Linked DNA regions of Homo sapiens. The protein of the gene in region 4 purifies or fractionates together with the protein of the main gene of each other region. This does not show direct contact. Each region holds a gene or a part of one and is shown on either strand. Other genes may lie near its edges. The genes, in order: U2AF2, CDC5L, SNRPA1, SNRNP200, ARID3A, USP9X and DDX23.

What was found.
Region 1: the proteins of SNRNP200 (region 4) and U2AF2 fractionate together in Homo sapiens (co-fractionation; 3 studies listed by BioGRID, with this or other methods). This does not show direct contact.
Region 2: the proteins of SNRNP200 (region 4) and CDC5L fractionate together in Homo sapiens (co-fractionation; 4 studies listed by BioGRID and IntAct, with this or other methods). This does not show direct contact.
Region 3: the proteins of SNRNP200 (region 4) and SNRPA1 fractionate together in Homo sapiens (co-fractionation; 3 studies listed by BioGRID). This does not show direct contact.
Region 5: the proteins of SNRNP200 (region 4) and ARID3A purify together in Homo sapiens (affinity purification with mass spectrometry; 2 studies listed by BioGRID, with this or other methods). This does not show direct contact.
Region 6: the proteins of SNRNP200 (region 4) and USP9X fractionate together in Homo sapiens (co-fractionation; 2 studies listed by BioGRID). This does not show direct contact.
Region 7: the proteins of SNRNP200 (region 4) and DDX23 purify together in Homo sapiens (affinity purification with mass spectrometry; 5 studies listed by BioGRID and IntAct, with this or other methods). This does not show direct contact.

The regions. Positions count from the first base shown.
Region 1 is NC_000019.10:55,665,035-55,668,534, forward strand, and holds part of U2AF2 (splicing factor U2AF 65 kDa subunit), read left to right. Parts: intron 1-3,472; coding exon 3,473-3,500. UniProt on the Homo sapiens protein: Plays a role in pre-mRNA splicing and 3'-end processing. By recruiting PRPF19 and the PRP19C/Prp19 complex/NTC/Nineteen complex to the RNA polymerase II C-terminal domain (CTD), and thereby pre-mRNA, may couple transcription to splicing.
Region 2 is NC_000006.12:44,422,206-44,425,705, forward strand, and holds part of CDC5L (cell division cycle 5-like protein), read left to right. Parts: intron 1-441; coding exon 442-604; intron 605-2,213; coding exon 2,214-2,378; intron 2,379-3,500.
Region 3 is NC_000015.10:101,292,449-101,296,624, forward strand, and holds the start of SNRPA1 (U2 small nuclear ribonucleoprotein A'), read right to left. Parts: upstream 2,801-4,176; 5' UTR 2,731-2,800; coding exon 2,649-2,730; intron 725-2,648; coding exon 577-724; intron 1-576. UniProt on the Homo sapiens protein: Involved in pre-mRNA splicing as component of the spliceosome. Associated with sn-RNP U2, where it contributes to the binding of stem loop IV of U2 snRNA.
Region 4 is NC_000002.12:96,285,047-96,288,546, forward strand, and holds part of SNRNP200 (U5 small nuclear ribonucleoprotein 200 kDa helicase), read right to left. Parts: intron 2,924-3,500; coding exon 2,817-2,923; intron 2,512-2,816; coding exon 2,393-2,511; intron 2,115-2,392; coding exon 1,960-2,114; intron 1,832-1,959; coding exon 1,642-1,831; intron 1,439-1,641; coding exon 1,265-1,438; intron 295-1,264; coding exon 134-294; intron 1-133. UniProt on the Homo sapiens protein: Catalyzes the ATP-dependent unwinding of U4/U6 RNA duplices, an essential step in the assembly of a catalytically active spliceosome. Plays a role in pre-mRNA splicing as a core component of precatalytic, catalytic and postcatalytic spliceosomal complexes.
Region 5 is NC_000019.10:932,535-936,034, forward strand, and holds part of ARID3A (AT-rich interactive domain-containing protein 3A), read left to right. Parts: coding exon 1-208; intron 209-3,500. UniProt on the Homo sapiens protein: Transcription factor which may be involved in the control of cell cycle progression by the RB1/E2F1 pathway and in B-cell differentiation.
Region 6 is NC_000023.11:41,168,945-41,172,444, forward strand, and holds part of USP9X (ubiquitin carboxyl-terminal hydrolase 9X), read left to right. Parts: intron 1-1,050; coding exon 1,051-1,291; intron 1,292-1,525; coding exon 1,526-1,675; intron 1,676-2,893; coding exon 2,894-3,014; intron 3,015-3,500.
Region 7 is NC_000012.12:48,842,164-48,845,663, reverse strand, and holds part of DDX23 (probable ATP-dependent RNA helicase DDX23), read left to right. Parts: coding exon 1-90; intron 91-1,613; coding exon 1,614-1,724; intron 1,725-3,500. UniProt on the Homo sapiens protein: Involved in pre-mRNA splicing and its phosphorylated form (by SRPK2) is required for spliceosomal B complex formation.

The DNA.
Region 1 (3,500 bases), on a different chromosome or scaffold from region 4:
GGGTTTTGGTAAATTCAGCTAACCTTTTGGAGCCTGTAATATATGTTGACATGCTCCCAATCGACATGGACTTTTTACGTATGGGTGCGTTTCCCCGATCAAGCTGCAGAATGTCTTCCCCACGTCTCTTCCTGGTGAATCCACTGCGTTTTCATTCATTTTAAGTCCCATGAGTGGCCCGCCACTTGCTGGTGCTTAGTGTGTGTCAGGCGCTGTCCTAAGTGCCCTCCATGCACGGCAGTTCTACGACACAGGGATTGGCGCTGTCCTAAGTGCCCTCCATGGACGGCAGTTCTACGACACAGGGATTGGCGCTGTCCTAAGTGCCCTCCATGCACGGCAGTTCTACGACACAGGGATTGGCGCTGTCCTAAGTGCCCTCCATGGACGGCAGTTCTACGACACAGGGATTGGCGCTGTCCTAAGTGCCCTCCATGGACGGCAGTTCTACGACACAGGGATTGGCGCTGTCCTAAGTGCCCTCCATGGACGGCAGTTCTACGACACAGGGATTGGCGCTGTCCTAAGTGCCCTCCATGCACGGCAGTTCTACGACACAGGGATTGGCAGGTTACAACTGAGAGTCCAACGCTGGCCCACTGCCTGTTTTTTGTTTTTTTGTTGTGTTTTTTGAGACGGAGTCTTGCTGTGTTGCCCAGGCTGGAGTGCAGTGGTGTGATCTCGGCTCACTGCAACCTCCGCCTCCCAGGTTCAAGCGATTCTCCTGCCTCAGCCTCCCGAGTAGCTGGGATTACAGGCATGTGCCACCACACCTGCTAATTTTTTGTGTTTTTAGTAGAGATGGGGTTTCACCATGTTGGCCAGGCTGGTCTCAAACTCCTGACTTTGTGACCTGCCTTGGCCTCCCAAAGTGTTGGGATTATAGGCGTGAGCCACTGCTCCCGGCCACTGCCTGTTTTTGTAAGTAAAGATGGATGGCGGTGCAGCTGGCCTCACTGTGCAGCGCCTCCTTCCTGGGTAGGGACGTGTGGTGGGCCTTGGGGAATAGGAACCGTGGGTTATGGATCTAAGGTTGCTTCTCTTACCAGGCTGAGGAGCTTGACTCTTCTGAAGGTGATGGGGTGCTCTGGCAGGGGCTGAGCTGAGGGCAACCCAGTGATAGTGGCTGCCGAGCTCCTCTCAGGCGCCCCCTGCACCAAGATGGCCTGGTCACCATGGGAGGGGACATTGCTCCATCTTACAGATGAGGAAAGAGCTTCGGGACAATGGGGATCCCTGCTGGGTCTTCCCCACACAGCCTCTGCTCCAGGTGTGATGCTTTGTAGATGCAGCCGCTGCAGAGGTATGGGGCCCTGTTTCCCCGCCCAACTCTTGGAACATCCCTGCCAAGCAGGGCTTGTCCTCAGTGATGAGTGGAGGAACTCAAGACTCCGAGAAGATTCCTTTGAAGTTGTTGTCATGTAACAGCGGCTGACCCCACTGACAGTGCTCACAGTGTGTGTCTGGGCTGGGTGGGTCCTGTTGTGGGCATTGAGTCTGGCAGATGCCCGGGCCATGGGGACTGCCGTGCCTGTTCTCACGTCCTCGATTGAATCAGCACTTGGCCTGAGCTGTTCTCACACACGTGGCTCACACGATGGGCACCAGGGTTCTTCCCATTCTACAGATGAAGACACTGAGGCCCTTGGAGGCTCATATGGTACAAACAAGACTTGAACCCAAGGAGCCATGAACCCAGGGAGCCCAACTCTTGTATCCTTGGCTCTGTGTTGCTCAAGTGAGACGGGCAGAGCCAGGGCTCGCGGCTGAGCTTCCAGTGTGACCCATTCTTCCTTGGACCCAGGCAGAGCCTGCAGCCTGCCATGCTGCCTGTGGGGAGTCACAGCTGAGTGTGGGCTCTGGAGGCTGCCTTTTTCCTGCCTGTGTGTCTTTGCTCTGTGCCTCAGTTTTTGCCTTCTGTGCTGTATGTATAGCATTGCAGTAGGAGGTTGAAAGTCTTACAGGATGCCTGGCCCATGGGGTGAGTGCCCGGTGTGTGTTCCTGCTCCCGGGCTGCTGCTACTTGTCCCTGTAGCATAGGAGCTGGGTCTCCTGGGGTCTGTGTGGCCCCAGTCTGGTGGTTGGAGCTGGCTGGGTTGGTGCTTCCAGTTCTGTGGGGGCAGCGTCATCATGGGCTGGAAGGGCTTGAGTGAGTAGGTGGGAGAGGGTGTGTGGGGGCATCTCCCCTCCTTCCATGGGCACAGCGGCTCATGCTTCTGAGGCTCTTTCCCATTTCCTGTCTTACCTATTCCTTCCCAGCATCAGGATGGAGGTGGGATGGGGCCACTCACACTTGGTGTGGAGGCTGCAGAGGAAGGGGAGGCCATATGGCCTAGGTTTTGAACTTGGGAGTCAGGCTGGTTGGTTACCGGGGCCTGGCATAGCTGATATCTGACAGGACGGCGTCAAGTTACATTGGCAGAGCCTGTGGGGTCTCAGGTTGAATCATCCCACCAGCAGGCACTTGTCTGTGAGTCCAGAGTTCAGTGGATAGGGCAGGATCGAGGGCCAGTAAATTCAGCTGATAAGCCCCCACTCTGGTATGTCAGCCCTCGAAGACACTGGATCCTGCATCCCACAGTCAGCCCACAGTTCCCAGTGAGATCAGAGCAGCTAATGCTGCGGATGCTGTTCTGAGACTTCCCGGGCAGCCGCGGCTGCTCATCGTGTCGTGCCACCCCTGTGAGGGCAGTTGCACCCCTGCAGTGGCACCTGCAGTTCTGACAGGGCGTGAAGGGAAGGGACTGAGCTTTTTTTTTTTTTTCCTTTGAGATGGAGTCTCACTCTGTTGCTCAGGCTGGAGTGCAGTGGAGTGATCTCGGCTCACTGCAACCTCCGCCTCCTGGGTTCACGCCATTCTTCTGCCTCAGCCTCCTGAGTAGCTGGGACTACAGGTGCACGCTACCACAGCCCGCTAATTTTTGTGTTTTTAGAGAGACGGGGTTTCACCATGTTGGACAGGATGGTCTTATCTCTTGACCTTGTGATCTGCCCGCCTTGGCCTCCCAAAGTGCTGAGATTACAGGCGTGAGCCCCCGCGCCCGGCCGGGACTGAGCTTTAATGGGAGCCTTGCCTGGGTGGCTGTCAGAGAAGGGGTGGGGTGTGTTGTGACTCACCAGTAGGTCCCGAGCCCAGGTGACCTGCCAGCATTCCACAGCAGCAGGTAGCAGATGTGGGTGTGAACTTTGTGCCTTTGGAGCGTTCTGGAGGATGTTCTAGTTTGAGGTTCCCCTGAGGCTGGGCAGATTTGGGAGACATGGTGCGTTCTCCCCGAGGAGCCTCTGTGTGCCACTGCCCAGGACCCTCACTGGTCAGATAAGGCTGGGGTGGGGTGGGCACGTGGCGACCCCTCCCTCGTCAGATCAGGCAGGAAGTGTTCTCTTTGGCAATTGAGGAGCTCGCCGTAGACTGTCCAGGTTTTGGGAGATAACCTGGTACTGGAATTGAAGTCCTCCTCTTCTCTACCCATAGGGGTTGTGTCCACTGTGGTCCCCGACTC
Region 2 (3,500 bases), on a different chromosome or scaffold from region 4:
GTACATTTGTAATAATGACAGTGATAGTGATGTGAGAACCAACAGCTTGATAGGGAGGGAGGAGACAAATATACACAAAACTCAAAGAGTCATCTGGGGTCATTGAGTGTGGTGGCCCACCTCCCTGCCCACTGCATGTTCTTAGTCGCCCTAATGTGCCAAGAAAAGGTTGAAATAATGTTTAGTGGACGTAGTTTAGGAAGGCAAGAAAATATCAAATGTAGTGATTATTGTAAGTCAGTAAAATAAAAATACCATGCTAGCTAGACCAAACATTGATTTTAACCTAGAGATCCTAACAAAACCAGCTGGACAGAATTTTGAAATCTTTATTCTTTTTTTTTTCTATATTTCCTGTGAAATAATTTATGTGAAAAACATTTGAAAGCACAATCCAAATGTAAGTGGCACTTCTGTTAATTGGGATTCCTGTCTTTCTAGGACTCCTTCTAATGGAGCTGAAGGGCTGACTCCCCGGAGTGGAACAACTCCCAAACCAGTTATTAACTCTACTCCGGGTAGAACTCCTCTTCGAGACAAGTTAAACATTAATCCCGAGGATGGAATGGCAGACTATAGTGATCCCTCTTACGTGAAGCAGATGGTAAATGTCAATTCCCTTTTAATACTCTTAAATTTTTTTTTAATATCTCATGGATGCCAAATTAAAATTTCTCCTGTTAGTGCATATCACATATACCTTAAGAATCTATACACCTGTGGATGCCAGAAAAAGAATTATTTGTAAGACTTGATGAAAGGGAATATTTTGGGCTCAAAACCCACCTTTCTTTATGCTTACTAGGTTTGTGAATATTGATGTTCGTTGTTGATTTCACTGAAGTTTTCTTTAGCAAGCTGAGGTAGAAAGCTAACTGTAAAAAGTTAAGTTTTGCTTCTGCCCGTGTTACTGCGTTTATTACTTTGCTATTGGGCCTTATTATCTAATGCCACAGAAATCATTGTGAAATTAAAAAAAAAACTTCTAATGATACTGGCTTGTCTTCAGTTTAAAATTAATTCTAACCTCATGTATATATTTGGTTGATTTATATATGTTTTTTAAAGTTCAAATTGATATCAACTAAAGCCAACTCTGAATGGATACATAAGAATTAAATAGATTAAGAACCTCATGCATGCAGAGCATGCATTTGGACATTTGAGGGGATCTAAAGTTGAATAAAGATGTCCTTTGTCCTAAGGAAATTTATATTCTGGGGAGATTGACAGTACTAAACTAAGTCCAAAAATAATTGCAATATCAGAACAGAATAAGCCCTTTGAGTAAAACCAGTGTGCTTAGGGTAGTTAAAGAAGGGAATAGTCACATTTGTTGGGTAACAGGAAAGCCTTATTAGAGGAGCTATGTTCTGAAGGAGGGTGGGGGCTGTCTCAGATGGAGACTACAATATGAGTAAGCATGGAGGATGTTTTAGATATAGCAACTCATCTGTTCCTCACACCTGGTACATGTAAGCACTGAGGATGGATGGGAAAACTCTGGGTACCAGGAGGCTTTTTTGGGAACCAGGACTCTACTTTCTTTCTTCTGCATGGGATTTAGTATTTCCATTAAAAATAAACACATACATACAAATTCAAGTATCTTTTAGAGTGGATTTTATTAGTCCAAGGACAAACTAACTTTTGAACCTGTTCTTTTCATTTGCTGTTAACTTTCGGTGTCAGAAATGTGTTCCCTCAAAGTGGTCTTTTTTTCTGCCCTGGCCTCAGACCTCCTGTTGGAATATCCCAGAGTATCTTCAGTGATCACAAGTGAAAGTTTTTGGTTGGTCTTAATGTTGGGAAGAAGGGGGGATAGAAAATAAACATAAGACTTGTCTTAGCTCTGAAGTCAGGATTATTTTTCTAGAATTAATATTAGGCTGATTTTTTTTGAGACTTTTTTTCTCTTTCTGTAATTTTTAATTTTTGTGGATACATAGTAGGTGTGTATATTTATGGGGTACATGAGATATCTTGATACAGGCATGCATGTGTAATAATCATATCGTGGAAAATGGGGTATTCATCCCCTCAAGCATTTAACCTTTGTGTTTGAAACCATCCAATTATTCTTAGTTATTTTAAAATGTACAGTTATTTTGACTAGAGTCACCCTGTTGTGCTATCAATTTTTAAGAGACTCATAAAATACTGGTGGAATGTTTAATATGCATGAATTGAGAAGGACCACTTCTTTTCTACAGGAAAGAGAATCCCGAGAACATCTCCGTTTAGGGTTGTTGGGCCTTCCTGCCCCTAAGAATGATTTTGAAATTGTTCTACCAGAAAATGCCGAGAAGGAGCTGGAAGAACGTGAAATAGATGATACTTACATTGAAGATGCTGCTGATGTGGATGCTCGAAAGCAGGTGGGTAACTGTACTGAAAGAAGCGTGAGTTTGGCTGAATGTGTCAGTAGGCTGGAAGAATGAAGAATAGCCATTAAATGTCCCAAGATCTCTACCTAGTCCTTTTTAATATTGAAAAAACTTCTAAAGTAAATAACTTATGTCATTAATAATGTATCCTCACATAATTAACATACTCACAATATTTTGATGAGCATTCTTAAAAATATATATATGGAAATTTAAATACATTCTGTCAAATTCATTATGCTTCTCTAAAATACACATAGGTAGTCTTTTAGACATTGCTTCAATCTAGCAAAGAAAAGATGTTATTGGTTAGTCTTAAAAACAAATACATCTTGGTTCCTGGGTGGTGCGATGTACGAGCCTGTAGTCTCAGCTGCTCGAGAGGCTGAGGTGGGAGGATTCTTTGGGCCCAGGAGTTTGAATCCAGTCCGGGGAACATAGTAAGACCTCTATCTAAACTGGAGTTGGAAATTTAGATAGAGTGTGTCAAAATAATATTAGTAACACTTTGTACTAATATATCTTATACGTAATTACTTTCTCATTTGCACGTAACAGCACAGTGATATAAATAGGATCGGTATTACAGGTTGAACATTGCTAATCCAAAAATCCAACACCTGAAATGCTCCAAAATTCAAAACTTTTTGAGTGCCGACATGAAGCTCAAAAGAAATGCTCATTGAAGCTTTTTGGATTAGAGTTAGTATAATGCAGATGTTCCAGAATCTGAAAAAATCAGAAATCCAAGATACTCTGGGCCCAGATATTTCTAGTAAGGAATACTCAACAAGCTCAGATGAATTGAGGTCTCATGGTCTCAACTTTCTCAGGTCTCATGGTGGGTAAGTGGTGAATCCTAAACTAGAACTGATATTTTATGACCCCTTTCAGTAGCTGCAGTCCATTGCTGGATGATTTTAGGGACCTTGAATCTCAGGGGATTGGAGTGAGAATGACATCAGTGGAAACAATATTTTAGAGGGGACCCATGTAAATGTGCTTTTCAGTGGGGAACAGAGGATGATACTTTTTGTGTTTAGTTCTCAGCTACTTTGAGTTACATTTACTCCTTCAGAAATGGCATGAAATTTTAATGTGTTATCCCACATT
Region 3 (4,176 bases), on a different chromosome or scaffold from region 4:
CCACTCACCACCCAGTACCTTTAAAGACATTATCTATACACCAAGTGCTTTTTTTCCAATAAAGTTTACACAGAGCTGATGAAGGCAGGGTCAAAAAAGATCTCAATTTCAATAAGTAACAGTCTAGAAATTAGTTGCAGTTAAAAAAAAAAAAAAGCAGAGACGCTCAGTCAAAAGTATAATTGTTACCTTTATATATCCTTTTACTATGACCCCTTTGATAATTGTTTTAGAAGCCAAAATGTATACAAAGCAACATGTTTTTATTTAGAAACTTAACCATGAAAATAAAAATACATGATTTCTGAACAGATACAAGTAAGACTAGACTAATGCCAGGTTAATCTCTGGATCTCTATAGGAAAAGTGAAGTTCATTTCTCATTTTAAGAAAAAACATGTATTGAATGTGGCTTCCATTATGGAAAAAATATTTTTTCAAAATATAAATAAAAAAGAAAAAGAAAAAGAAAAAGAAACATGTAGGTTTAACCAGTAGCACGTGCTACAACTTCTTCAGGAAACACTGCAACATTTACTCTAGGGGAAAAAATTACTTTCCCCTACAGACACGTACCATATTCTGTTGTTGTTCACTAACAATGTTTTCAGTCTTCTCAACAAAGGAAAACCATCCAGTTTCCTGATCTCATTGTCAGAAAAATCAATAGCATCAAACTGGTCTAACGTAGCACCTAGATTTTCAATGACGGGAATTTTATACCCTATAAAATGGAGGAAAAAAACACAAGAGGTATTAATATAACTAAACAGTTGCCCCTTAAAGCATTAGCTGTATTTCATAGTATCTGACTCCAGGCTTTGATTTATTCAGGAAGTATTACCTAGCACCTATGTCGGGTCACGCATGACTTGCCGCTGTTTAAGATACTAGAGAGAAAACGCTGAACGAGTCTCAAGTCCCCAGTGCCATGAAGCTTAGAATCTGATGACAACAAGGACAAGGACAATAACAATGGCTGATATAGGCAGCTAACATTTATAAGAACATTTACAAGGTGCCTCACACTGTCCTAAGTCGTTTGGGCTAGTTAAGCGGAATCGGCACAACAGGAGTTTACACTTGGAGCTGCTTAGTCTCAGTGCCCAAACGGCGTTCAAACATTGTGGACGACAGTTCTCCACTCTTGCATCTCCACAGGCCAGATTCTTAGAACCCATCAGAACAGCCTCAACATATCACGACAGTTCTCCCTCCCCTCCCCCAGCTCCAATTCAGAATTGAAGATCAATGGTTTAAATACAGTAATAAATCTGTGAACACTCAAATGTTAATTTGTCTAATTTGGGCATAATTATTGTGTTAGGCACTATAAGAAAAGAAATATTCCGAAGAAGCAAGGTCTACTAAAAAAAGAACTTACCCAAAGTTAAAGGACACAATTCAGAGCTGTACTACACGTACTGCATCAAAATACGTATTCTCAACACTGCACATGCTCCATAAAGAGAAATGGCAGAGATCATCAAAAGTGGTGAGTTGGGCCGGGCGCAGTGGCTCAAGCCTGTAATCCCAGCACTTCGGGAGACCAAGGCGGGCGGATCACCTGAGGTCGGGAGTTCGAGACCAGCCTGACCAACATGGAGAAACCATGTCTTTACTAAAAATACAAAAAATTAGCCGGGCGTGGTGGCGCATGCCTGTATTCCCAGCTACTCGGGAGGCTTGAGACACAGGAATCACCTGAACCGGGGAGGCGGCGGTTGCAGTGAGCCGAGATCACGCCACTGCGCTCCAGCTGGGGCGGAAAGAGCGAGACTCCATCTCAACACAACACAACACAAAACAGTGGGATTTCCCAAAGGTCGGCAAGAAATCTAAGCAGATCCCGCAGCGATGCTGCTCCGAGGCCATAGGTCCCCATGGGAACAAATCTCAGGCTACGACAGCATGGTCTTATCCTCAGAGAAGTTGCTCTATCACGTCCCTTTTAAAGCCGTCTCCTGAAATGCCAACTAGCTAGCTGCCCTCCCAGTATCTTACCAAGTCTTGCTAAGGTTGAAATAGTACAGGAATCTGAATAATTGCGAGCGCTTCCACAACTTACACACAGCACCCGGCGGTGCAAGCCTGGGTGACACAGTTCAATTTTTAAAACGTCTTCATATAGGGGAAACGCCAGACAATTAAAGCTACTAAGTAGAAAATACTGGAGGAAACAATCGCGGTTGTTCGGGGACTTAGTTTCCTCCCTCACATTAGGAATAATGAACACATATCCTATCTACGCTCAAAATATCATCTGGCGGCAAGTATTAAGAACCAATCCCGCGCCCTGCACTTGCGTTACAACCATTAATGAGCCGCTCTTCCGGGCCCTCAAACAGCCAGCGGCGAAACAGCCAAGCAAGGCCTAACAGGGCCCCACGAGGACGCACCAGGAAGTAATGAAGTCACCCGTGCCTGTCAAGAGGCACGGCGCTAACAGAAGGCTCCCAGGAGCTTAACCGGATGCTCATCTGGCAACAACGGCAAGAATCAGGCCCGGCGTTCCCTGCGCAGCCCGGTCGGAGCCCAGACAACCGGCCCGCGGGCCAAGCTCCGGCCTTCGGTGCACGCGGCAAAGCGCGGAAAATAAGGCGGCTCGGTGCCGCCTGGGGACTGGCCGCCCACGCCCCCGGACTCACCCCGGAGGTCCAGCTCCCGGTCGCGCACCGCGTTGGTGTACTGCGCCGCCTGCTCGATCAGCTCCGCCGTCAGCTTGACCATCCTGCAGCCTCCCGTTCCCCCGCGCTGTGGAAAGCCCGTGGCCTCCCGCCAGCGAGACGTCCCAGCGTGCCCCGCGCCCCGCCGCCAGGCAGCACCAATCGCAGCCGCCGAGTGCGCGCGCAGCTCGACCGCCAGGCCGAAGCAATCGAAGAGCCACGCCTCCGGGGGCGTTCTTGCCGGAAGTCGTGGCGCGCGCACAGGGGATGTGTCTCGTTCTGGGTTGTTTCCTAGGGTGTGTTTCGGAGTCTGGAGGACCCCTGATTCCAGACGTTGGTGTTTAAAAGTTAAGGCGAATGTGGAAACACCCGAGGGGAACTTTCTCATGCATTAGCGCACCTCGAGGTGGGAGGGGAAGCGGTGACTGTCCTCCCTCCACCAGCCGTCGCGGGAACCCGTGGGGTTCAGTGAAGGGTCCAGCAGTTCAGGTGCCCGCCCCGGGCCTGGGCCTTGGCTCCGGGCTACAGTGTGAGATCCCGGGCTAGGTGGCCCGCCTGGGGCAGGTCGCCGGGACAACCCCACCGCCCCGCAAGTCCAGCCCGGCCTCGGGCACGGTAGGGTTTGCGGTTAAGCTTGTGACCTTTAGACTTCTGAATATTCATATGTATGAAATGTGATATACATAAAAGTGTGCATATCAGGAATTTACAGTGATTAATGACCAGAGTGAACACAGCTGCGTAGCCGACACCGGGATCCAAAACACCGCTATTCTGAAAGCCTCCCTCTTTCCCAAAAGGCAACCGCGAACTCAACACTACAAATTCGGTTTGCTTGCTTTTGCTATAAATAGAATCATGCAGTATGCTTTTTTTTTTGGCCTAGTTTCATGGAGTCTATATTATGTCTGGAGTCCATCCAGGTTGCATACAGAGATGGTTTGTTTGCTTTTGCTGCTGAAGAGAATTCCATTGTATATATTATACCATAAATTACTTATTCTGCTGTTGATAGACATCAAAGTTGTTTTCAGTTAGGGCTATTCTGAGTAATGCTACTATGAATTTTCTGGTACGTGGTTCTGATGCACGTTTGCATGAGTTTGTCCTGGAGTGGGACTGCTGGGACATAGGGTATATCTATCATCAATAAGTAATGCCCAACAGTTATGCTAAGAGGCTGAAATAATATACACACTCCAGCGGTGTGTAAGGGTTTTCATGGCTTCCAGCTTCAGCCTTCTTGGCATTTTAACTCTATAACTTCAGCTATTCTGATGGGTGTGTGGTGGTATTGCACTACTGCTTTGCTTTGCTTTTCTCTAATAACTAATGAAGCTGAGAACCTTCTCATGTGTATGGTGCCCATTCTGATAGCTTCCTTGGTTAAGTGTTCTTTCGAGTCCCTGGCTCATTTTTTTTTTTTCCTTATGGAGTTGTCTGCCTTTTTTCTTATTGATTTGTGGAATTTCTTTATATATTAGGGATATGAACACACTCTGTGGCTTGC
Region 4 (3,500 bases):
GCTGGGGCAGCTTTTCTTTAATACACAAACTGAGGAAATGACCCTGCAAATTTCAGGGCTTAGAAAGCCTTCATACGGAATCACAGATGAAATGCTTCTTGGGAAATTCACATGACACAGCGCCACGTCATACCTGCTCTGCCAGGGCCTCCATGGGGGTGATGTACACACAGCGCCCCTCCGAGCTCTGCAGCAGCATTCGCAGGATGGCAAACTCTGCACAAATAGTCTTCCCGCTGCCCGTGGGGGCCCCCACAAACACGTTGTCGTCACTGTTGTATACAGTGTTAAACACTGGAAACCAACAGAAAGAAGCAGTGTAAGTATCAAGAAGGAAGAAGAGACGGACTGGGACATGGATCAATTGTCAAAACAAAGGACAACATACGAAATGAAGTCAGGCAGTTCTGGAGTGCAGACAGAGGAGCTAAGGCATCCAAGCCTCTAACTCCAGGCCAGCCCTACTGTACCCCCTTACCTGCTCCCACTTAACAGTTAAAGGGGAAGAGGCCAAGATCAAGAGCCCAGGTCCCCTGGAGATGTGTGGGATGACAACAAAAGCAAAGCAAAAGAAGCCACACATTCTTCTTTGCTTCTCAGGGACTAGGATGCGGGACAGAAAGGAACTGGATCCCTTTCTCTGCCCCTTCAACACTCTCCTGCGTTTCCTAGAAATAGCCTAAGGTAGAAAGTAAGAGCCTTATCCCTGGCATCAAGACTGAATTAAAATCCAAGTTCTACTATTTATCAGTTGGTTCAACTGGGGAACCCTCTATGCCTCAGTTCCTCACCTATAAAAGGAACACTAATGGCAGTATCTCCAATAGAGATTCCTTTTAGGCTTGATGGGAGGAATAAGAGAGAAAACACCGGTGATGTACTCAGCCATGGACTGAGGAAACAGTGCCTGCTCTGTGAATGTCCCCGTTATTTATCATGATGTGGTGAGGAGGCTTCAGTGCCACCCCATGGTTCTGGTTCAATACTTGAGCGCCAGGGGCAGGCCTCTAAGCCTCCTGGGCCCGAGAAATGACCATGCCATGTAAGGCCTTGCTCTATTGCCCCTCCACAGTGACACATGCAGAGCAGCAAAGCAACCAAAGGCTTCTGACAAAGGAAAAAGTCCTGGTGGGTCCCAGCGGTCACACTGAGGAGCTCCCAGACCTCCCAAGTGCCTGAGCACCCCCACTCCCCTGCCTGCCACAGAGCACATCTGTCTCCCGGTGACTTCAAAAGCCTCCAGAGGAGGGATGGAAACACTTACCCTGGGTCTGGATGGGATTGAAGAAAGGAAATTTATCTTGGTAAAGACTCTCAAAGGCACTGTTTCTCAGAGCAGACACGGGCAAGGGCTGCAGGTCCAAAAGTTCGGTTGGAGGGGGGTACTTCTCCGGCAAGATCAGGTGCCGGAAGGAGACAGGCAGCTGGGTCTCACAAGCTGCCAGAAAAGAAACAGGAAGGATATAAGCACTGCTCTCTTTCCCTCACTGGCCTCTAGATCCCCTCCATGAACACTGGAAACCTAGGCAGCATATGTATCACTCTGTCCCCAGCAAGGGCAAGCCCGGGACAAAGTGCAAGACATTCTTCTACTGTCCTTGGAGGGACTGTTCCTGGGGACTCTGGAGAGGAGACACTCACAGAGCCAGCGGTCAGACACCACTCGGATGAAGTACTGAGGGGGCAGCGGTTCAAAGACAGGCACGAAGAATGTAATGAGGTGCTCGTCCTGGGCGTACTTGGCCTTGAGGAGAAAATACTCATGGTGCAGAATCACCTCGCTGTCCACATCCTCCACCAGAATCCAAAAAGCCTCGGATGAACCATGCACCTGCCAACAGGAGCAAGGGTAAAAGGAATGTGAGTCAACGTAGACTGAGTGCCTCCAATCCATCTCCTCGGCCCAGCAACGTAGACTGAGCACCTCCAATCCAGCACCTCTGCCCAGCAAAGCCTCACCTTTTCATCCCACTGGAAGTCTGGCGTGATGGTCAGCTCCACCTTCAGGGTGGAGCGTGTGATAGGCTGCAGGTGCACTGACAACTCCAACTTGGGAAACAGATGGACATATTTGTGGATGGTCTTCCCCATCTTTGGCATGCGGATAAGCTCCCCTACAAGGAAATGAGAGTACTGAGGCTGCAGCCCAGCCTGCCTACTATACTGCAAACTGGGCCTGAGGGCCACTGTGGGAAAGGGGTAGGGTCTTCCCTTTATGGTCAGTGGAGCCCAGGATTCCAAGTCCCCAGACCAAGGGCCAGCCTGTACTTCAGTGGGACTTGGGGAGTGAACACAGGATACTAATGCACAGGCCTAGGAACAGGAAGACTACATAGGCAAACTGGGAGAGACACCCAGGCAGTGAGGACAAGGGCGAGAGCATCCCACACACCAATCTCATTATGATTCAGGTCGTACAGACGCTCAAAGGGGAAATTCTTCTTCTCAATCTTCTTCACTACTTCCTCAGGGAGTTTCCGGAACTGGCGCAGAGGACACATGGACTGCCACCTATCCAGGAAGGAGGCAAAGCTGTTGGTCCCTTCTGCAGGGATGTGACAAACCACCCACTTCATGGCTTCCAATAGTTTAGCAGTGACTACACAAAACACAGTCATTAAAGGCAGACACTGACACTGTGCCAGCCCTGGCCTCCACCACAGAGGGCCTTCCCTCTTCTCAATGTGCACCAAGGTTCAGGTCATACTTCCGATGTCAGGTCTGGAGATCAGATGCACCCTGAGGCTTTCCCATCAGACCCTTGGGTTGGGGACCCCCACTCATGGTGACCAGCATCCAGCTCACTGGGTCCTTACATGCGTTTGTCGATCATCTTGCAGAGGTTCAGGGTCTTGTCTGTAAGCTGTGCCCAACCTCGGTTCAGGACAATTTCAAATATCGCTCGCATCAACCGGCCAGCCGACTAAGCAAAGAAGCAGCATTCCCACTGTTAAGTCTCGACTATCCCCAGGCCTCATGAGCCACTCTACACACGGTTTCATTACCTCCAGCTCTGACACAACCACCCACCCTAACTCAAAGGCAAAGTCCCCTCTGTCTTTACGCCTTTCTCCGTTCCATATAGTAGATGCTTGCCGGATGGGGAACAATTAGAAGAGTGCTGCGGCTCAAGGTCACTGCACAACATTTTAACCTAACATTCACTGCATGATTTTAAAGCTTTTGAGTCATTTAGCATTTAGAGTTCTAGGAAGAGTTGAGGGTACCAGTGACCTGTTCTTAGAGGTAAAGATGAAGAGCAGCTAATAAAACCCTGTGCCATTTTTGGATTTATTTATGAGCTGTGCAGCAACAGTGGGAAATCACTTTGCTGCTGGGAAGCAGACACTGCGTGCTGTGGCTCTTCCTGTCTCTCTGAGGGCCCGTGGAGCCTCGAAGCATTCCCTCTTAAGGTCTTACCTTTCCCACGTGCTCAAGATGTATACTACAGAGTGGCTGTACCACACATGCACCAACCAACTACCCGGCAAGAGCAGAAC
Region 5 (3,500 bases), on a different chromosome or scaffold from region 4:
AGGCCCTGCCAGCTTGGGCACCACGGCACTGTTCCCCCGAAAGGCCCAGCCACCCCAGGCCTTCCGCGGCGATGGCGTTCCCAGGGTGCTGGGGGGCCAGGAGCGGCCGGGGCCTGGCCCTGCCCACCCCGGAGGGGCCGCCCACGTAGCCCCGCAGCTGCAGCCGCCTGACCACGGCGACTGGACTTACGAGGAGCAGTTTAAGCAGGTGAGTGGGCGCGTCCCGCGTGGCGGCTGAGGCACCTGCTCCTGGGCCAGTGGGGCCCTTTGAAGGCCCACGTTGCACGGGGTGTGTGCTGAGCCGGGCGTCGAGTTGAGAGCTGGGGGTTCCTGCGGTAGCTGTGCTTCCTGTGCTTCCCTCCTGGGCGTGGGCTCGACCAGCTGGCTGTTCATTGCTCTGATGTGGGATGTGTGAGGAGCACCCGGCCGGGTAGGAGAAACCTGGGGGGCTCCACGGCCCCCATATCGGAGGTGATGGGGCAGAGATGGAAAGGTGGGCCTGGGAGGGAGAGGCTGGCGCCGGCCCGAGCTGGGCTTGGGTTGGAGGAACCAGGCCTGCGGGCGATGCGGGCAGAGAGGCCGGGGCCTTGGTGACGTGGTGACTTGGCCTCCTCTGTCCCCTGGCATCTGTGGAGAGCCGTGGGGGGTTGCGGGCTGCAGCTGGCAGCCGAGGGGATGTGGGGGTGGCTCAGGTGTGGCTGCAGGAGACGCAGGAGCCAGGGCCTGTGAGGCTCCGAGTGGGCGGTTAAGGCTGGGGCCGGCAGGGGGTCTCAGGGACCCCAGGCTGAAGGAGGAAGTAGGGGCCGCCCCAGCCTTTCCCCGCAGGCGGCCAGGCCAGAGGAAGTGGCCGGGCGGGGGATGCTTTGAAGTTGGGCCGTGCTGGGCCGGGCAGATGGAAACCAGATGGTGGCCAGGCTCACATTCCAGCCCTCGTCCAGCTGGGCTCTGCCTCGACCTCTGGGCGCGGCTGGGGGGAGCCACCTCCTCGCCCGGGGCTGGAGCTGGTCTGGGCTCCCGCAGGGAGGTGGATGATGGACACGCTGGGACATGCCTGCCTCGGGGCAGCCCCTTCGGCCCTGGGCTTCCAGAATCCGCTCTGAGGAGCCTCCTAGGAGGGGCCAAGGCACAGACACCCAGGGGGGCCTCCCCGGGGCTCCTGACTCCAGGGGTGCCGGGTAGCTTAAGGGGCGGCCCTAACCCCAGCAGCCCTCAAGAGACTTAAGGTTGGGCTGCCTGGAAACTCACAAATAGTAAAGAGCTGAAAGCCGGACACGGTGTGGGAGAATGGCCAGGGCAGCGGCGGGGACTCGGTGGGGGGGGGGGGCGTCTCGCTGATTCCACCCTGCTCTGTGACTCAGTTTCCCACTCCTGCAGAAGGGGATGCTCCACGGGCCACACTGCCGCGCGTCCCATTCTGCCAGTGAGAAAACAGAGGCTCAGTGTTGGGAGGAGGGGTCTTGTGATCTTTTCTGGGTTTAAGATGATACGGATGAGCATGCTGAGAGTGGATTCTCTTTAATTTCATTAATTTAATTCACCAATTAATTTAACATTCACCCAATATTCGCCATCTGCCCGGGACTCAGCCCGCAGGGAGCCCTGGGCTGGAGGGGCGGGCAGGAGCCGGACGGAGACCTCCATCCCCGCAGGGTTATAGCCAAGCCGAGAGGGAGGGTCAAGGCCCCCCATTCAGTCGGTCCTTCGGGGGTCAGAGGTGAATGGGACCCCCTGACCCTGGACACACGCCCCGCCCAGACAGCCCCGGCCTCCAAGGCCCAAAGCCGATGGGGGAGTTTTGGGGTGACTGGCCCAGACCAGGCAGGGATGAGGGGCCAGGCGCCCTGACCCCACAGCCCGCAGCATGTCCTGAGCGAAGGCAGGAGGCAGAAGCCACTGTCTACCTTGTCTGGGCGACACCGCGGGTCAGGGTTGTAGGTGCCATGTGGGGTTTTTCTGCAGCGGGAAGCCGAGATGGGGAAACTGAGGCCAGTGCAGGGAGGGGGGTCACTGTGTCACCGGCAGCCTCAGGTATTCCTGGAGATCCTGCCGCCCCGCACCTGCCCCCTGGGTGTACCGGGCAGTGCAGAGGCCCTGAGGTGGACTAAAGCTCGGCTTGTGTGTAGGGACCGGGTGCCGCCTCTGGGTCTTGCGGGAGACGGGATTGGAACTCCGAGAAGATGAGGGCCTAGGGATGGTCGTGGGCAGCGGGGGTGGGGGGAGGCCCCCGCCCTGCAGTCCTGTGACTTTTTTTTCTCTAGAGAAGGGCTTTCACGGTGTTGCCCAGGTTGGTCTCAAACTCCTGGGCTCAAGTGATCTGCCTCACTCAGCTTCCCAAAGTGCTGGGATTACAGGCCTGAGCCACGGTGCCCAGCCAGTCCTGGGATCTTATCCTGGGCTGTTCGTGGCAGGTCCAGCCGCCGATGCCGCCGCCCGCCCAGCTGGCCAGACACCTGTGTTCCCAGTGTCAACAGTGGCCTGGGCCCAACCAGCCCAGTCAGTGTTACCTCCCGCCCGGCCCCTACTGGGGCCCCTGTTGACTCTGGCGCCTGCCCCACCCCCTTCCTGGCACGTGGCAGGCCTGGCCCGCTGGCCGGCCGCTTGGCACCGTCTCTGCCTCTTCCTCCCAGGTCCTGGCAGGGCTCGGGGCTAACTTCCGCCTGCAAATCCTCGACAGCTGTGAAATTCTGCTGTCGGCTGCAGGTCTGGTGGGTGGCCAGGCCGCGGCGGGGGGCCGGGCGCAGCAGGCTCAGGGCCACGGGTTCTTTCCTTGGACACCTGGAACCTTGCTGCCTGGGGCCTGGGGACGTGCAGTTTTGGAGGCCAGCACGTGTCGGGCAGTGATTAGGATCTCAGCCTCCTGATGTCTGACGTAGCCTCCTGGTGGCCTCCTGTCACCCACACAGCAGGCCCAGCTTCTAGAAAGCGGCCACGGTAGGATTTTATTGGATTATTATTATTTTTGAGGCAGGGTCTTACTCTGTCGGGTAGGCTGGAGTGTAGTGGTGCTGTCCTAACTCACTGCAGCCTCGATCTCCTGGGTTCAAGCGATCCTTCTGCCTCAGCCTCCTGAGTAGCTGCGAGTACAGACGGGCGCCACCAAACTCAGCTAATTTTTGTAGAGACGGGGTCTTGCTATGTTGCCCAGGCTGGTCTAGAACTCCTGGGCTCAGGTGATCTGCCCTCCTTGGCCTCCCAAAGTGCTGGGATTACAGGCGTGAGCCACCGCACCCCACCATGGTAGGATTTTATTTATATATTTGTTTATTTATTTTTTGAGACGGAGTCTCGCTCTGTCGCCCAGGCTGGAGTACAGTGGCGCGATCGCGGCTCACTGCAAGCTCTACCTCCCGGGTTCACGCCATTCTCCTGCCTCAGCCTCCCGAGTAGCTGGGACTACAGGCATCCGCCACCGCGCCCGGCTAATTTTTTGTATTTTTAGTAGAGACAAGGTTTCACCGTGTTAGCCAGGATGGTCTCGATCTCCTGACCTTGTGATCCGC
Region 6 (3,500 bases), on a different chromosome or scaffold from region 4:
TTGAATATGATTTTTATTTTGTATTTTACTTTAAAAAAGGTACTATACCAATATAAATAGCATTTTGGAGTGAATTTTGATATGAAGGCTTTTTTCCAGAAAAAAAATAAAGTGCATTGTGGCATTTTTGTTGATGCTTTTAACAAAATGTAAAACGACCTTTTAAATGTAAAAGGTAAACTCTACCTTCTTTTTTTGAATTTTTTTTTTTATTAATACAAGGTCTACCTATGTTGTCGAGGCTGGTCTTGAACTCCTGGGCTCAAGGGATCTTCTTTGCTTGGCCTCCCAAAGTGGTAGGATTACAGGCATGAGCCACTGCGTCCAGCCAACCTTTTACATTTAAAAATAGTCTTAGTGAGTTGGGCTTTTACAGCATAAAAATAAGCGTTATATCTTGGATTTAATTTCATTTTAGTAGACACCTCATTTTCTGCAACCATAGATACAAGACTAACAACAATAGAATATGATTATGTTTTTAAATATTATTTATATTTTTAGTTAAAAGGAGCAATATTTTTTTTTCTTTTGCATTTCACTCTTGTTGCCCAGGCTGGAGTGCAGTGGTGCAGTCTCGGATCACTGCAACCTTTGCCTCCCAGGTTCAAGCGATTCTCCAGCCTCAGCCTCCCAAGTAGCTGGGATTACAGGCGCCCACCACCAAGCCTGGCTTATTTTCTGTATTTTTAGTAGAGATGGAGTTTTACCATGTTGGCCAGGCTGATCTCGAACTACTGACCTCAAGTGATCCACCCGCCTCGGCCTCCCAAAGTGCTGGGATTATAGGCATGAGGCACCATGCCTGGCCTTATTTTCAAGATACTGAAAGTAATACAGGTTGAGTATCCCTAATCCAAGAAATCCAAAATTTGTCTGGTCCCAGACATTTCATATAAGGGATTCTCAAGCTGTATTAAGTATCTTTAATTCACATCCTCTTGTTTAATAAGAAAATACTTAGTGTTAAATCCCCAGCATTATTTTCTTGGCAACAAAATTTCAGAGTCTGCTGAATATGATGATGTCTGTCTTTCTTTTTCCCCCCAGAGCATTCCGCGGTAAACACCTCTCTTTTGTAGTTCGATTTCCAAACCAGGGCAGACAGGTTGATGACTTGGAGGTATGGTCTCATACAAATGATACAATTGGTTCAGTACGACGATGTATTCTCAATCGTATTAAAGCCAACGTAGCCCATACAAAAATTGAGCTCTTTGTGGGCGGTGAGCTGATAGATCCTGCAGATGATAGAAAGTTGATTGGACAATTAAACTTAAAAGATAAATCGGTATGTATGTATAGTTAACAGATTTTTCAATAAAATCAAACCAGAGACTATCGTTTAATCAGTAAATACTAATTGAGCATTTGTTATGTTTGGGACTGTGTTAGGTGTTAGAGTTATAGCATTAAAGTATAGCATGTAGTCTTTCGGATTTTTTGGTTGGTATATCACTAAGTTTTGTGTTTTGTGTAAGTATTTTTCCTTGTTTTTGATATTAACATAGTATATAATTTTCAGCTTATTACAGCCAAACTTACACAGATAAGTTCCAATATGCCTTCAAGCCCTGATAGCTCTTCTGATTCCTCCACTGGATCTCCTGGAAACCATGGTAATCATTACAGTGATGGTCCCAATCCAGAAGTGGAAAGCTGTTTGCCTGGAGTGGTGAGTAGATACAGTTTTGAACTACTGTATGTAAGGCATCATGCTAGGGTTTTTGAGAATAAAGTATATAGAGTGGTTCTTTCTTTTCTTGAGGAGCTTACAGTTTAATGAGACAAAAAAATACAGTTAACCACCAACTTCAGAATGGATCCCTCTAAAAGGTAATTGTAACACAGTTGGAATTTAAAACATAATTTCCCCATAGGTATAGTATTGTTACTTTTACATAAAATTAACCAATTAGAGCTTAATTATAACACTATTGGATGTATAAATTTAGAGGAAAACAGTCATCCCTCGTATACGTGGAGAATTGGTTCCAGGACCTCTGCATATACCCAAAATGCTGCAGATGACCCTGTGCAACCAGATATACAAAAAGTTAGCCTTCCATATACTTGGGTTTTGCTTGCTGGAAATACTGAATTTTCTGTCCACATTTGATTGGGAAAAAAGTCTGCATGTAAATGGACCTGTGCAGTTCAAACTTGTGTTGTTCAAGAGTCAGCTGTATCACTTTCTAAAATTTATACCACAAAACGGATAGTTCTTTTAGAACTATATATGAGCTGGGCATGGTGGCTCACACCTGTAATTCCAGCTACTGGGGAGGCTGTGAGGCAGGAGGATTGCTTGAGCCCAGGAGTTCTAGGCTGCAGTGAGCTGCGATTGTGCCATTATGCTCTAGCCTGGTCAACAGAGTGAGACCCCATCTCTAAAAATATAAATAAATGAAAACAAGAACTATGTAGGAAAATACCTGTAATCTTTATCAGATTGTCAGTAACATATAGCCAAAGAAATATTTTTAAGCTCTCCTTTCGCCCCTCCCGACAGAAATTTTAATGGTTACAATAGTAGCAGCCACTCCAGTGTCAGGAGGATTTGGCTCTCTATAACAACTGGATTAAGAATTTGGTAGTGGGCATGGCAGCCTTTTGTTATGTCCAGAGTCTAAATTGTATATATGAGAGAAATGGTTTAATAGAACAGGAGAGGAGCTATCACAAAAAAATGACTGGAAGTGACTTGATGATGTATTTGATCTGCACTATTAAGGATTTGTAGGGATTAAAAGATGGGAAAGTCAGACTATTTCAAAGAGTAGAAATTTCATAAGTAAAAGTATAGGGATTAACACAGAGAAACTTACTTGGGCTTTTATAAAACGGGAGTAAATAATTTAGAGGTAATTATTTTGTGTATTTTATATTCTAGATAATGTCACTGCATCCCAGATACATCTCTTTTCTTTGGCAAGTTGCAGACTTAGGTAGCAGCCTAAATATGCCACCCCTTAGAGATGGAGCAAGAGTACTTATGAAACTTATGCCGCCAGGTAAGAATTTTTAAATGATGATCAAGTACTTGCTGGACAATAAAGGAGTATATTAGCAAATTCTGTTTCTAAATGGACCGTGCTTTTTGGTATAGACTATAACAAGAGTTGACAGATGACAGCCCACAAGCCACATCAAGCCCCCTGCTTGTTTTTGTGCATCCCAAGAGCTATATTTTTAAGTGGCTACAAAAAAAAAATCTAGAAGAATAATATTTTGTGATACATGAAAATTATATGAAGTTTAAATTTTAGTGTCCATGATCAAAACCAGGCTCATTTGTTTACATTCAGTCTACATGACTGCTTTTGTCTTAAAATAGCACCGCCCAGGAGTTGTGGCAGAGGCCATATGGTTCACAAGCCTAAACTGCTTAACTTTCCTGGCCCTTTACAGAAAATGTTTGCCTATACCTGGACTATAATATGGGTCATGTGTCATCTGCGGTATTGTTCCTTTTTTATCCTTAGAAACAACCACTTCCA
Region 7 (3,500 bases), on a different chromosome or scaffold from region 4:
ATCTAAAGATAGAAAGCGGCATCGTTCAAGGGATAGACGTCGAGGAGGCAGCCGTTCTCGCTCTCGTTCCCGTTCCAAATCTGCAGAAAGGTAAAGTAACTTTGTATGTTATTACATGGGAAGGGAGAGTACGTTTCAGATTTCTTCCTTCTTGGTTCTTCTGATGCCTCCAGTATTAGGCATCTACTTTTTATTTTTATTTTTTGAGACAGAGTCTCGCTCTGTTTGTTACCCAGACTGGAGTGCAGTGGTGCGATCTCAGCTCACTGCAAGCTCCGCCTCGCAGGTTCACGCCATTCTCCTGCCTCTGCCTCCTGAGTGCGTAGCTGGGACTACAGGCGCCCGACACCATGCCCGGCTAATGTTTTTGTATTTTTAGTAGAGATGAGGTTTCACCGTGTTAGCCAGGATGGTCTCGATCTCCTGACGTGATCTGCCTGCTTCAGCCTCCCCAAGTGCTGAGATTATAGGCGTGAGCCACCGCGCCTGGCCTTTTTTTTTTTTTTTTTAAAAGATGGAGTTTCACTCTTGTTTCCCAGGCTGGAGTGCAATGGCACGATCTCGGCTCACTGCAACCTCTGCCTCCCAGGTTCAAGCAATTCTCCTGCCTCAGCCTCCCGAATAGCTGGGATTACAGGCATGTGCCACCACACCTGGCTAATTTTGTACTTTTAGTAGAGACGGGGTTTCTCCACGTTGGTCAGGCTGATCTCAATCTTCCGACCTCAGGTGATCCACCCACCTCAGCTTCCCAAAGTGCTGGGATTACGGGCGTGAGCCACCACGCCCGGCTAGGCATCTACTTTTTGTACATTAATCTACTCCTAGCCCAGTTGGACCTGCAGGTGTTTTCAGTTTTCCTCAGTGACCCAACTCTTAAAAGTTGAGAGGGGGCCGGGCGCGGTTGGTTCACGCCTGTAATCCCAGCACTTTGGGAGGCCGAGGCAGGTGGATCACGAGGTCAGGAGATCGAGACCATCCTGGCTAACACAGTGATACCTGATCTCTACTAAAAATAAAAAAAAAAAAAGTTGAGAGGGAACTAGTAAGGTGAAGGTCCGGGTTATCAAGGAAGGTTCATCTGTGGCCGGGCGCGGTGGCTCATACCTATAATCCCAGCACTTTGGGAGGCCGAGGTAGGTGGATTACTTGAGGTGAGGAGTTTGAGAGCAGCCTGGCCAACATGGCAAAACCCCGTCTCTACTAAAAATACAAAAATTAGCCAGGCATGGTGGTGCACATCTGTAATCCCAGCTACTCGGGAGGCTGAGGCATGACAATTCCTTGAACTCGGGAGGCAGAGGCTGCAGTGAGCCGAGATCACACCACTGCACTCCAGCCTGGGCGTGAGAGTGAGACTCCATCTCAAAAAAATAAAAAAGGAAGGTTCATCTGTTCACATAGTCCGTGACCTGTCATTGCCGTTAATATTTAACAGTACATCTCTGATCTATAAAAGCTTCTTAGAATTCCCTCGTTATTTCCGTGAGAGATACATTCTCTAATTTGTAAAACATTACTTTGGGACGAGAGTATAGGAACTTTCTCAGGGCTGCAGTGAAGCAAGATACTTTGGAAATACCAAGTGAACTCTTAAATTTGCGGTCTTCCAGAGAACGACGGCACAAAGAACGAGAACGAGATAAGGAGCGGGATCGGAATAAGAAGGACCGAGATCGAGACAAGGATGGGCACAGACGGGACAAGGACCGTAAACGATCCAGGTACATGAAGGAATGAGAGGGGGCTTTAGGGGAATGCTCCCATTTCTTCTCTGCACCTGAGTTTGCTCAGCTTCTTATGAAAGTAGATTTCTCGCCAGGCGTGGTGGCTCACGCCTGTAATCCCAGCACTTTGGGAGGCTGAGGCTGGTGGATCACGAAGTCAGGAGATCGAGACCATCCTGGCTAACATGGTGAAACCCCGTCTCTACTAAATATACAAAAAATTAGCCGGGCGTGGTGGCGGGTGCCTGTAGTCCCAGCTACTCAGGAGGCTGAGGTAGGAGAATGGCGTGAACCCGGGAGGCGGAGCCTGCAGTGAGTCGAGATCACGCCACTGCACTCCAGCCTGGGCGACAGAGCAAGACTCTGTCTCAAAAAAAAAAAAAAAAAAAGAAAGAAAGAAAGTAGATTTCTCTTAACAGATTCTGTTGGTAGTTATTACAGAGCTCTCTTTCTTATTTATTTTTATTTATTTTTTTGAGGCAGGGTCTCTTTTGCCCAGGCTGGAGTGCAGTGGTGTGATCACAACTTACTGCAGCCTTGACTCCCCCAGGCTTAGGTGATCCACCCACCTCAGCCTCCTGAGTAGCTGGACTACAGGCATCTGCCACCAGATTTTGTTTTTTTTGGGTTTTTTTTTTTTTAATTGATCATTCTTGGGTGTTTCTTGCAGAGGGGGATTTGGCAGGGTCACAGGACAATAGTGGAGGGAAGGTCAGCAGATAAACAAGTGAACAAAGGTCTCTGGTTTTCCTAGGCAGAGGACCCTGCGGCCTTCCGCAGTGTTTGTGTCCCTGGGTACTTGAGATTAGGGAGTGGTGATGACTCTTAACGAGCATGCTGCCTTCAAGCATCTGTTTAACAAAGCACATCTTGCACCACCCTTAATCCATTCAACCCTGAGTGGACACAGCACATGTTTCAGAGAGCACAGGGTTGGGGGTAAGGTCACAGATCAACAGGATCCCAAGGCAGAAGAATTTTTCTTAGTACAGAACAAAATGAAAAGTCTCCCATGTCTACCTCTTTCTACACAGACACGGCAACCATCCGATTTCTCAATCTTTTCCCCACCTTTCCCGCCTTTCTATTCCACAAAACCGCCACTGTCATCATGGTCCGTTCTCAATGAGCTGTTGAGTACACCTCCCAGACGGGGTGGTGGGCGGGCAGAGGGGCTCCTCACTTCCCAGTAGGGGCGGCCGGGCAGAGGCGCCCCTCACCTCCTGGACGGGGCGGCTGGCCGGGCGGGGGGCTGACCCCCCCACCTCCCTCCCGGACGGGGCGGCTGGCCGGGCAGAGGGGCTCCTCACTTCCCAGTAGGGGCGGCCGGGCAGAGGCGCCCCTCACCTCCTGGACGGGGCGGCTGGCCGGGCGGGGGGCTGACCCCCCCACCTCCCTCCCGGACGGGGCGGCTGGCCGGGCGGGGGGCTGACCCCCCCACCTTCCTCCCGGACGGGGTGGCTGGCCGGGCGGGGGGCTGACCCCCCTACCTCCCTCCCGGATGGGGCGGCTGGCCGGGCGGGGGGCTGACCTCCCCCACCTCCTTCCCGGACGGGGCGGCTGACTGGGCAGAGAGGCTCCTCACTTCCCAGTAGGGGCGGCCGGGCAGAGGCGCCCCTCACCTCCCGGACAGGGCGGCTGGCCGGGCCGGGGGCTGACCCCCCCACCTCCCTCCCGGATGGGCGGCTGGCCGGGTGGGGGGATGACCCCCCCACCTCCCTCCTGGACGGGGCGGCTGGCCGGGTGGGGAGCTAACCCCCCCCACCTCCCTCC